2 separate regions of the Homo sapiens genome follow, and region 1 is linked to region 2. The links come from fine-mapping of genetic effects on gene expression. A gene starts in region 2. The other region holds a variant in brackets. All regions are shown on one strand. Distances are between the middles of the regions.

Evidence for each region.
Region 1: its variant is fine-mapped to the expression of GALNT8 in whole blood (TOPMed, PIP 0.92).

What each region holds. Positions count from the first base shown.
Region 1 is chr12:4,813,999-4,819,488 of GRCh38, forward strand. The region is part of intron 1 of KCNA6-AS1 (KCNA6 antisense RNA 1); the gene reads right to left. It also overlaps a transcript of KCNA6 not described here. Among named protein-coding and RNA genes, the nearest start is that of KCNA6, 7.4 kb to the left of the region's middle. The variant T/C (reference allele first, on the strand shown) is at 2,359.
Region 2 is chr12:4,717,436-4,722,660 of GRCh38, forward strand. GALNT8 (polypeptide N-acetylgalactosaminyltransferase 8) reads left to right here and starts at 2,965. Exons shown (of 11, transcript NM_017417.2): 1 at 2,965-3,453. The coding sequence starts at 3,243. GAU1 (GALNT8 antisense upstream 1) reads right to left here and starts at 2,667. Exons shown (of 4, transcript NR_110112.1): 1 at 2,430-2,667. RefSeq lists enhancers at 2,086-3,081, 3,082-4,077, 4,078-5,073.

The DNA of each region.
Region 1 (5,490 bases), 97 kb after region 2:
GGGAGACCAGGGGACTACATCTTCCCAGCTTCTCAAATGGGAGCACCTCCCACATCGTGGCTTAGGGGCTGGGAGTGCCAGGGCACGGATGTGGGACTTTTGGAAAATGTGGAGGAAGCAGGGCCTCAAAGCTTCCTGTCTGGACTTTTCTTCCTAGTTTCCCCACCCAGTCATTGAAGCTGCCTCATCTTACTCCTGATTCTTCAGAAATTTGAATGTTAAGCAACCAGTTAAACCAACGTCAGTATTAATTTTTTCAAGCTGTCGAGGGGAGCCCTTAGAGGGGACAACTTCTTGGAGTGGCGGCCAAGCTGGGCCTTACCAGGTGTGATCATAGTCTTAGGTATCATGGAGTTCCCATCTCCGCAGAGGCAGGCTCTTCCCAGCTCCACGAGAGGCGGAGAATTGCAACTTCTTCCTCTCTGGGAACGGCCTATCTAGCTCCTGGGAGGAATCTCAAAGATCTTTCTTCTTAAGACATCGAAGAAAAACTGAGAGGCTGTAGCTCGACCTAGTTTCTGTGAAGAATTTTGTCAAGTGATCCCTCTCGGACCCTGAGCCTCTTTATTTGGATTTTGTGCCTTGAGCACCAAGAGAATATGCACTCTGGGTTGCCTGGACAGCTGGGGTGGTGATTCACAGGAAGGGTCCAAGCCATCACTACACCTGACTCAAGCCGGAAAGAGCTCCCAGAGGACTTCCTGGAGCTGCCAGCCTCAGCCTGAGATGCGGGATATTCGTCCCCAAGGAGCGAGGAGGGACAGCTCGCCTTCTTTGCAGGTGAGGTAGGTTCTACTGGAGGGGAATTTTGGTTTTGGCTCAGTCCTGCAGGCAAAATTAGAACGGGGTGGGGAGAGAGAGAAAGTGGGGAAGCGTGTGCATCTGGAGAGAGGCAAGGTTTTCATTCCCCTTCCCTCAGGGGCTACCTCGCTTTTTCTGTGTATTTTTCTTTGACTCCATTAACTTCAGTTTCCTTTTTCTCTGTTTCTGTCCCCTTGATGCTGCTGGCCCCTGTAAAAAATTATCTCTTTTTCTGTGCATTTTTCTCTTTCCTTCTTTTCATTCTTACTGTCTCTGCCTTTTTTCCCCTTTCTCCAGTTTTCTTTCTTCTGGTTTTCCCCCTCTGTTCTTTTACCATCTTCTTCCTTCTATGTGTGTCTTCCTGCTTATCTTTCTCCCTCTCTCCACCTTTTCAGTGGCTGGGAGCACCTAGAGTGTTGACGTCGAGGTCGCACATTGAACTGTAGGACAGCTGTGCTTGCTAAGGTCTGTCTGCAGCAGGAGTATTCCACTTTTTCCTGACTTCTCACTCTGCCATTCTTTCCTACCATGCTCACCTCTGTGGAGGCAAGTCCTGAACCTGCCAAGCAAGATGAGACTGCCATGGGCTCAGAAAAATGTCTCCCAGAAATTTCCTGAACCTGCAAGCATAAATGAGAGAAGGCAGGCTGGGAGGGAGAGAATGACCCTGAGAAGTCTCAGACAAATCCTCTGCTGAGTAGCCCTGGACCACCTCAGGTTCTCCAAGCTTAGGAGGCTGGCAGAGAGGTCAAAGACAGAGGAACAGTAGAAATGTCAAATAAACAGAGAAAAGAGGGCTTAGGAGGCAGGCATAAGGTTGGAGTTAGCCTGGAAAAAGCCTTAAATAGGGGATGGCTTTAGAACTGCCCTTAATTCACTTGAAGGTTTTGCTAGTATCTGGCTGTCTCTCTCGGGTACTGAAGGCAGAACAAAAGGAAAGGACATAAATCTCTGTGGTGCAAGGTGCAGGGAACACTCCTTGACAAGGAGGATTAAGATTCACCAGGCAGTCCGCAAGGAGAATTGATGGTCTCCTTGCTAGAAGTCTTAGAGCATGGGCTAAGTCCCACCTGCAGCAGGACACTAGGACAACCTGAGGGGCCCCCATGGGGTTGAAGGTTGTGCTATTACAATTGGCCCCAGATAAGTTTTGGGGGATAATAGAAATGCTGTGAAGCAGGATTGTGGTAATAATCATACAACTCTAAAAATCGCACCCCAAAATCATTGAATTGTGAAAAAAAAGAAAGCAACGAGTCTAATAATCTGGGAGTTTTCCATCTGGGCTGGGAGAACGGTTTGGTCCTATAAATCTAGAAGCTTAGCATGTCTAAAAATGGACCAGACAATATCTAGAATAGAATGACAGTTTTTTTCTTCTGCCACATGGGGACACTTTAGAGCTTATATGCAGTCGATCGTTGCTATTCATGCACAATACCACGAACTGGTGTGTGTGTGTGTGTGTGTGTGTGTGTGTGTGTGTGTGTGTGTGTGTCTGTGTGTGCTTCGTTTTGACATCAAATTGTTATGAGAGTTACATGCTTTTCTCTTTTT[T/C]CTTTTTTTCCTCTAAAGATATGTCATGCCATTTTTTGGGTAAGTGCAGGGCATAATTAGCATGCACTGAACTATGATATATATGTTGAACATTATTCATTATACAGGACTACGGTCTTGAGCTTGCCCAGGGAACTTACACTTTGCTGGCAAAAAGAAAAAAACTCCAAGAAAAGTTCCCACAAACTAAAAACCCCACCAAATCCCTGCACCTGTAAACTCAGAATTCCTTAAGAGATTGCATAGGGCCCAAGGTTTTATGTATTTATCTACTATGGTTATTATTTTATTTTTGAATTTTTTGAAATTTTTTTTGTGGGTACATAAAGGTTTTATTTTCCCTGGCCCCCTACCTACAGTCCCTCTACAGTCGTTATTGATGCTTAACAGCCCTATGAAGAGGTCCCAGCAGTCTTTGGTGCTTCCGGTAAACAAAAGAAGTGGACGGTAACGGCCTTCATTTGTCTTACTGAGCCTTTCAATGATTCTCTCCCAGACTCTGATCCCCTCTTGGCCTGCTTTGCCTTGTGCCCACTGGACCCTCCCTTCCCTCTCCTTGGTGCTTTCCTCAGATGCACCAGCCAGTCCTGTGGCTTGTCATTTCTCCTCTCCGCTGGCTGAGCCCTTGCTTGCAGCAGCATTTCTATCTGCCTGCAACTCAACATACATTCCAAGATAGATTCCCAGAGAGCGTGGTCCTTCCAGGACAATCTGGCTGGAGCTGCCATCCTGGCTCACATGGGTTTTGACTGTGTGTTATTGCCATGGGAAGGAAGTGGGGAGGAAAGTGTCCTCCAATCCTACCTTGTCACAGTCACTTAGGGGAGGAAAAGAATTCCATTTACTAGGTGGTAGGAGTTCCTCTCTCCATCCCGCTTCATATTTTGCCTTGGGTTGCACAGATAGCTCATGGCAGAACAGGGTCTGGAGCTTGGCAGTTGGCAGGGAGAGGGATCTTCCCAGACATAGGCCGCGGGGAAGAAAGACAGATGGGCTTTTAGCCTCTCATCTTGCCAGGTCTCCTGATGAACCACTTTCCTGTGCTGGCCTTGAGTGAGTCTCTGTGGGGTTGGGAATGGTCATGTTTTTCATGTCCCTTTGTTCTGAACTTGAGAAAATAGTTCACCCTGCCTCTTGGTCTTCTTGGTCCTCATCCCCTGGCTTCACCTGGTACCCTAAAGGGGGAGTGGAAATCTATCAGCCACTGCCTTTGAAGGGTTATCAAAGCAGCTGCTGTGTTTGAAGGTGCACATTAACAATAGGAGAGGGACTCCCTCATTTTCAGAACAAAAGAGGAAAGGTTCCTACCCTACAGGAAGTATCATTCGCACTGGTCTAACCTTGGCTATCACTTGACCTGTTTGGGGACTAGTCCTGATGGGATTTATTACAATTTTTTTTTTAATCCAACTCCAACCTCATCATTGTTACTCTAAAGAGAATTCCTCACTCCTCGGTCACGAGCCTCAGCAGATACACTTTACCTCCTCCTGGAAAACATTTTGGAATCTTAAGCAGCTTCTGCTGCAGGCTGCAAGGAGCGCAGACAGACCCTGGCTCTTTGGTGAGAGCAAAGGCGACATTTCAAAAGGAAATTGCAGCCACGCAGTCTGCTGGCGCTGCTATTTTTGACATGCTTGCTGTTCTCTCAGGGCTTGACAACCGCTGTCTCCAGGAGACAGACAAACCTGCTCTTGGCAGCAGAGACACTGCTTTGAAAAAGAACATAGGAAGACAGTCCTGCAGCTGGGAGGGGCGGGGAGGACTTGCCACTGGAAGCGTGGCACCTGGCTAGTGGGGCTGCAGATCTGAGGTTGCAGGATTTATCCTCACCTAGGGAATCCTGACCTTGCGTTGCATCCTTCCCACTGGGAATAGTCCTAGCAAGAATAAGAATGGTGCTATTCATTTACAGAACATTGTCAAACACGTTCAGTGCTTTCAGACATCGTGCGATTTAACAAAGGGTTTAAGAGCATAGTTGCTGGAGCCTGATCGTCGCGGCTCAAATCCCTCCTTTGCTGGGTAACATGGGGCAAGTTATGAAACAGTTCTGTGGCCTCAGTTTCTTTCTCTGTCAAATGGAGGATAATAATAGTACCAATCTGATAGGGTTGTTTTGAGGATTAAATGAATTAATGTATGTACAGTGTTTAAATGTACAATGTCAGCTGTTATTATCATCCTGCAGCAGTGAAATGAAGTAGGTAGGCTAGGCTTTGTTTTTTTCTTTGGCAGATAAGAAAACTGAAGCTCAGAGGGGTTGTGATGTCTTTAAAGGCACACAGTAATGTGTGTTTCATCCTCTTCAGGGGAGATGGAACAGAATGGAATGCAGTGAGGGTCTAACTGTTATTGGGCAAGAAGAATGAAGCCATAGCTCCTAAATGTGTTTATAGACTTCTGTTTACATGCCAGCTTGTCTCTGATGGAGCAGCAGCAGGTGTCCTGTGCTTTTGTTCCCTATGGGTCCCTGAAAGTGCACACACACACACACACACACACACATATGCATATACACACATACGTATATACACACATAAATATATATACATACATACACATACATACATACACAAAAACACACACATACACATATATACACATATGCACACACAAAACCACATATACACACACGTATATATACAGAAACATGAATATACATATGCACATGTATACACACGTATATGCACACACAAACATATACACACGTATGCACAGGCACATACATGCATGCTTATACATATACCCACGTATATACACAAACACATATGGTGCTATATATTCTATATGTGTGTAGCATATATACGTGGAACATCTTTCTATGGATCCCTTTCTCAGTACTGCCACTGATCTCCCTCTCCCATTTTAACATTCTCAGTGGTTGACACTGCATTCGAGTTTTCCTCACACACCTGCTCCTGCCTTCTTCCTTGGGAAGAATGCAGGGTCTTATAGTTAGCAGAAGGGACAGAACCCACAAGCCAGCCCCTGGCCCAGAGTTTTCCTACCCTGTTCCAGTGGCTTTCAAACTTCCACTGTCCTGGTCCTCACCGTCAGCATGCATTCTTTTCCCCAGTCACCTTCACGGCCCCCTTTGCAGGTGGGGGTACCCCTTAATCTCCCGTGGCT
Region 2 (5,225 bases):
AGGCATGTGCCACCATGCCTGGCTGATTTTTTTAAATTTTTTGTAGAGATGGGGTTTTACCGTGTTGCTCAGGCTGGTCTTGAACTCCTGGGCTCAAGTGATCTGCCTGCCTCAGCCTCCCAAAGTGCTGGGATTACAGGTGTGAGCCACCATGCCATGCCAATTTAAAAAAAAGTTTATTTTTTAGTAGAAACAGGGTCTCAGTATGTTGCCCAAGCTGCTCTCAAACTCCTGGGAATCAAGCCATCCTCCTCCTGCCTCAGCCTCCCAAAGTGCTGTGATTGCAGGCATGAGCCACCATGCCCGGCTGGTGTTGCTGTCTGTTGATAGGCTCTTCCAAGTTGAGATTTTCCTGGTTGTTGATATGACAAGTGATTTTCTATTGCATCTTGGCCATTCTGAATATAACTTTTTGAGACTCTGGATCCTATGTAAATCTGTTTTAGCAGGCCTTTCATACACTGTTCTGGTGGGGAGAGGGAGATTTCATCTCATCGCTGCCAGGTGGGAGAGGAAGCCCAGGTTCCATGCTTGGCCTCCACTGACACCTGGTGGGGAGGGCTGCCTCATTACTGATGGGTGAGGGAGGGAGTTCAGGTTCCCCACTAGCCCTCTGCTGACACCACACTGGCTGAAAAGGGGAGGGCCACTGTTCCTTTACTGATATCATGTGGGGACAATGACAAAAATGCCAGCTCCCCAAGAGACCTTCACTGACACACCCTGGAGGGGAAGGTGGGGGATGCAGGGGCAAACCCTCACAGCTGGGGTGAGGTTGGAAGTCTAGGCTCCCCACGAGGCCTCTGTGGATGTGGTGGGCATGGCACTGCAAGGTTTTCAGTGGCATTTGGCTGGAGTAGGGCAGTTGTTGTCTAAACATCTTCTGTCTTGCTAGGCTTCCCATTTCCTGTTTCTTTGGTTAGAGAAAGCAGCTTTTTCTTGGGGCTTCTATTGTCTCTGCCCATTGCATTTCCAAGTTGTTGACTGCTCCAGCATCCAGCAACTTGGAATCTATTTCCTACAATAGCTAGGATATCTGGAGATCTCTAGTCAGCCTGCCCTGTTCTCTCTACCTTTCAGAGTCTTCTTAGGTTTGTTTTACATATCATGTGTACTTTTTACTTGCCTTGATGGGAAGGAATAGAGAAGATAAATGTAGGTATTTCTTCTTGTCCCAGAAGCAGAAGGGTTATGCTTTTTTGTTTGTTTGTTTTTTGTAGTTGTTGTTGTTGTTGTTTGAGATGGAGTTTTGTTCTTGTTGCCCAGGCTGGAGTGCAGTGGCGCGATCTCGACTCACTGCAACCTCCGCCTCCTGGGTTCAAGCGATTTTCCTGCCTCTGCCTCCCAAGTCGCTCGGATTACAGGTGCCTGCCACCATGCCCAGCTAATTTTGTTATTTTTAGTAGAGATGGCGTTTCACCATGTTGGCCAGGCTGGTCTTGAACTCCTGACCTCAGGTGATCCACCTGCCTCGGCCTCCCAAAGTGCTGGGATTACAGGCGTGAGCCACTGCGCCTGGCTGGATCATGCGTTTCTTATGTTTTGAGTCTAATTTGCAAGTGGGAGGCTGGGAGACATTTTCTATCCCTGCGAAACAGAAGAAGTGATTCCTTTTCATTTTGTTCATTTTCATCCTGTTTTTCCTAAAGCCACATTACTTTCCTTTAATCCACATGTCCGCCTCAGCACATGTCACCATGTGCTGTGTTTGGGACGTAGTAAATAGTCCAAAGAGCCAGGCCGGGGTGGAAGCTGTGATTTTGACGGGATTGACAGTAGACTGAGAACTTTGAACTTTTAGCCTTGGGGAACAATTTTATGTGTTTATTCTACAATGATGATCACTGGTGATTTGTCCAAAACATATTATAAGTGTGAGGTGTGGAGGCAAAGGAGTTACTGGAAGCTGGGGCAGGGCAGAAGCCCAGTGTATGAAGTTGTGCAGAGGACAAGCAAAGGACAGAGACCAGTGAATCGGAGTCATCCCCTGAGGCTCAACCCCGGGCACCGCCTCCAGCTCTTCTCCACCTGCTTCTAGGCAGTGAAGTCCTAGGAACTAGCAAGAAAGTCTGTCCTTAAGTTTGTGGGACAAGCATTTGTTGCACACCTACTATGTCCAAAACCCTGTAGAGTTAGGTAAAAAGACATCTTAGATCCCAGCTCTCCAAAAAAGCAAGGATCTAAGTGTACAGAGACTTCTTGCTTCGTGATTTCTTCTTCATCCTATTTATCCCCTTCTTATACCCACAGGACCAGACCTCACATGCCCTATCAGAGTCTCCCAGGTGGTTTTTCCAGGGAGAGAGAACATTAAACATCAAACAAACATATATAGAGAAAAGCCTCTCACCCAGGCAGCCTGAGCTAGCTGCAGGAGCAAGCATTCTTCTGACTTCTGAGACAGTACAAGGTGTGTCCAGGTGACTTACCTGTCACTGGGCAGCTGCCATGCGCACTCCTCACACCTGACGCTGCTCAGGGAGAAGCCAGGCAGCTATAATAGTGTTCTTGGCCGGAGAACATCTGGCCTAGCAGGCAGGGTGTCATCTATGAAGCTGGGTGGAGAGAAAGCTGTTGGGGAAACCAGCCCCACACCACCCAGCGGATACCCCGAGTCCGGCGGAGACAAAGGAGTTAGAAAGAGACAGAACAAGCGTTTAAAAGGCAGGTCCAGGGGACCAGAGCGTTGGAGGCTTGCTCACGGCCCAGAGCTCTGGGCTCCACCCAATTTATTGGTTTACAAGCTCTTTGTTCTTAGGGCAGATGGGAAGGGGAGGAAGGGATGAGGAAAAGGATTAATCAGTGAGTCATTCGATAAGATGTGTAACAGTGGCGGTTTCTGTGAATTTCCTTGAGCAAAGGCGTGTGTCTAAACTACTTAAGATCTTTAATGACTGAAATGGGTGGGAGTGGGTTTCAGGAGGAGCCAAGATGTTTGATTATACTCCTCTGCTTCAAGGGAGTGTTATCTCCCTGAGCAACCTGTGGAAAGCCGCTGAGCAACCTGTGGAAAGCCGCTGAGCGGTTATCCTCTCGGGGCATAAAGACAAAGAAGGCAATAAGGAGACTTTGCTCCTCAGAGGCCACCCGTGGCTTCCCATGGGTGTCTCACACAGGGGAGACCAACTCAACTGGCACCTAGAACTCTCTTTCCCACAAAAGCTAGGCTGGTTCTGATTCTTAACCTGCTCCAGCAGTGACACACTCAGTCCCACAGGGAGTGGACGACCCCCAGGAAGAAGATGATGTTTTGGAGGAAACTCCCCAAAGCCCTCTTCATTGGGCTGACTCTGGCCATTGCTGTCAATCTCCTTCTGGTATTTTCTAGCAAGGGGACTTTACAAAACCTGTTTACGGGTGGTCTCCACAGGGAGCTTCCTTTACATCTGAATAAACGCTACGGGGCAGTGATAAAGAGACTCTCCCACTTGGAGGTGGAATTGCAGGATCTGAGTAAGTTTACAATGCTAACCTGGAAGGTGTGTGTGTGGGTGTGTGTGTTTGGGGCACTTAGGAAAAAGGGATATGGAAGGAAAAATGGGTGAGAGGTCACATTTTCATCTCAGTCGCTCATTGAAGCATCTGACACTGAATTCTGTGCCTTCAAATGGGAGATGGGTATTGAGAATGAAGTGAGTAGAAGTGGAAATTAGAGCAAGCAGTATGGGGGAGGTGAGCATGTGTGTGTGTATGCGTGTGTGGGCTTGTGCACATGCATTATCATTATATCTACATATGTGCAGGCAACGAGAAGAATAAGAATCCCAAGGGCCATAGACCTGTCCTTAGGCCTATTGAAGGGGTGGGTTGCACCTCCACACCTGTGGGTGTTTCTCGTTAGGTGGAACGAGAGACTTTGGAAGAGAAAAAGACACAGAAACAAAGTATGTAGAGAGAAATAAGGGGGCCCAGGGGACCAGCGTTCAGCATACGGAGGATCCCGCCAGCCTCTGAGTTCCCTTAGTATTTATTGATCATTCTTGGGTGTTTCTCGGAGAGGGGGATGTGTCAGGGTCATAGGATAATAGTGGAGAGAAGGTCAGCAGATAAACACGTGAACAAAGGTCTCTGCATCATAGACAAGGTAAAGAATTAAGTGCTGTGCTTTAGATATGCATACACATAAACATCTCAATGCCTTAAACAGCAGTATTGCTGCCCGCATGTCCCACCTCCAGCCCTAAGGCGGTTTTCTCCTATCTCAGTAGATGGAATATACAATCGGGTTTTACACCGAGACATTCCATTGCCCAGGGACGGGCAGGAGACAGATGCCTTCCTCTTGTCTCAACTGCAGAAAGGCGTTCCTTCCTCTTTTACTAATCCTCCTCAGCACAGACCCTTTACGGGTGTCGGGCTGGGGGACAGTCAGGTCTTTCCCTTCCCACGAGGCCATATTTCAGATGGTCACATGGGGAGAAACCTTGGACAATACCTGGCTTTCCTAGGCAGAGGTCCCTGTGGCCTTCCGCAGTGTTTTGTGTCCCTGGGTACTTGAGATTAGGGAGTGGTGATGACTCTTAACGAGCATGCTGCCTTCAAGCATCTGTTTAACAAAGCACATCTTGCATAGCCCTTAATCCATTTAACCCTGAGTCGACACAGCACATGTTTCAGGGAGCACGGGGTTGGGGGTACGGTTACAGATTAACAGCATCTCAAGGCAGAAGAATTTTTCTTAGTACAGAACAAAATGGAGTCTCCTATGTCTAGTTCTTTCTACACAGACACAGTAACAATCTGATCTCTCTTTCCTTTCCCCACGCCTATGTGTGGTAGGGGCTGTTGAAGAGAGGTGGCAATCTCTGGGGCAAGGGCCTCGCTTCCATTTTGCGGTGTGCTCCTTTCATGAACTAATGAGGGCTTTGTTAGAGGACCTAAGATCGAATCCTGATGTGCCATTGTGGTTGTGTGACTTTGAGCAAGTGCTTCTCTCTCTCAGCCTCAGGTTCCTGGTCTGTAAATGGAGATGATGATAACAATAGTGATAGTTATCAACCTGACCTAATAGGGTTGTGAAGTAGATGCAGAAGGTGATCTATAAACTGCTCTGTGCCAAATTTTAACCTCCTCATTTAAACTTAAGGGTAAGATTTCAACACATTCTGGGGTTTGTTTGTGATTCCGGCTCACCATGGAAGTCTAATGCCTCTGAATTTTATGTGCCTGTGCATCCAACTTCAGCAAGGGAAGCAGCAATTTCCCCCTGCTCCCAGGTAACAGGG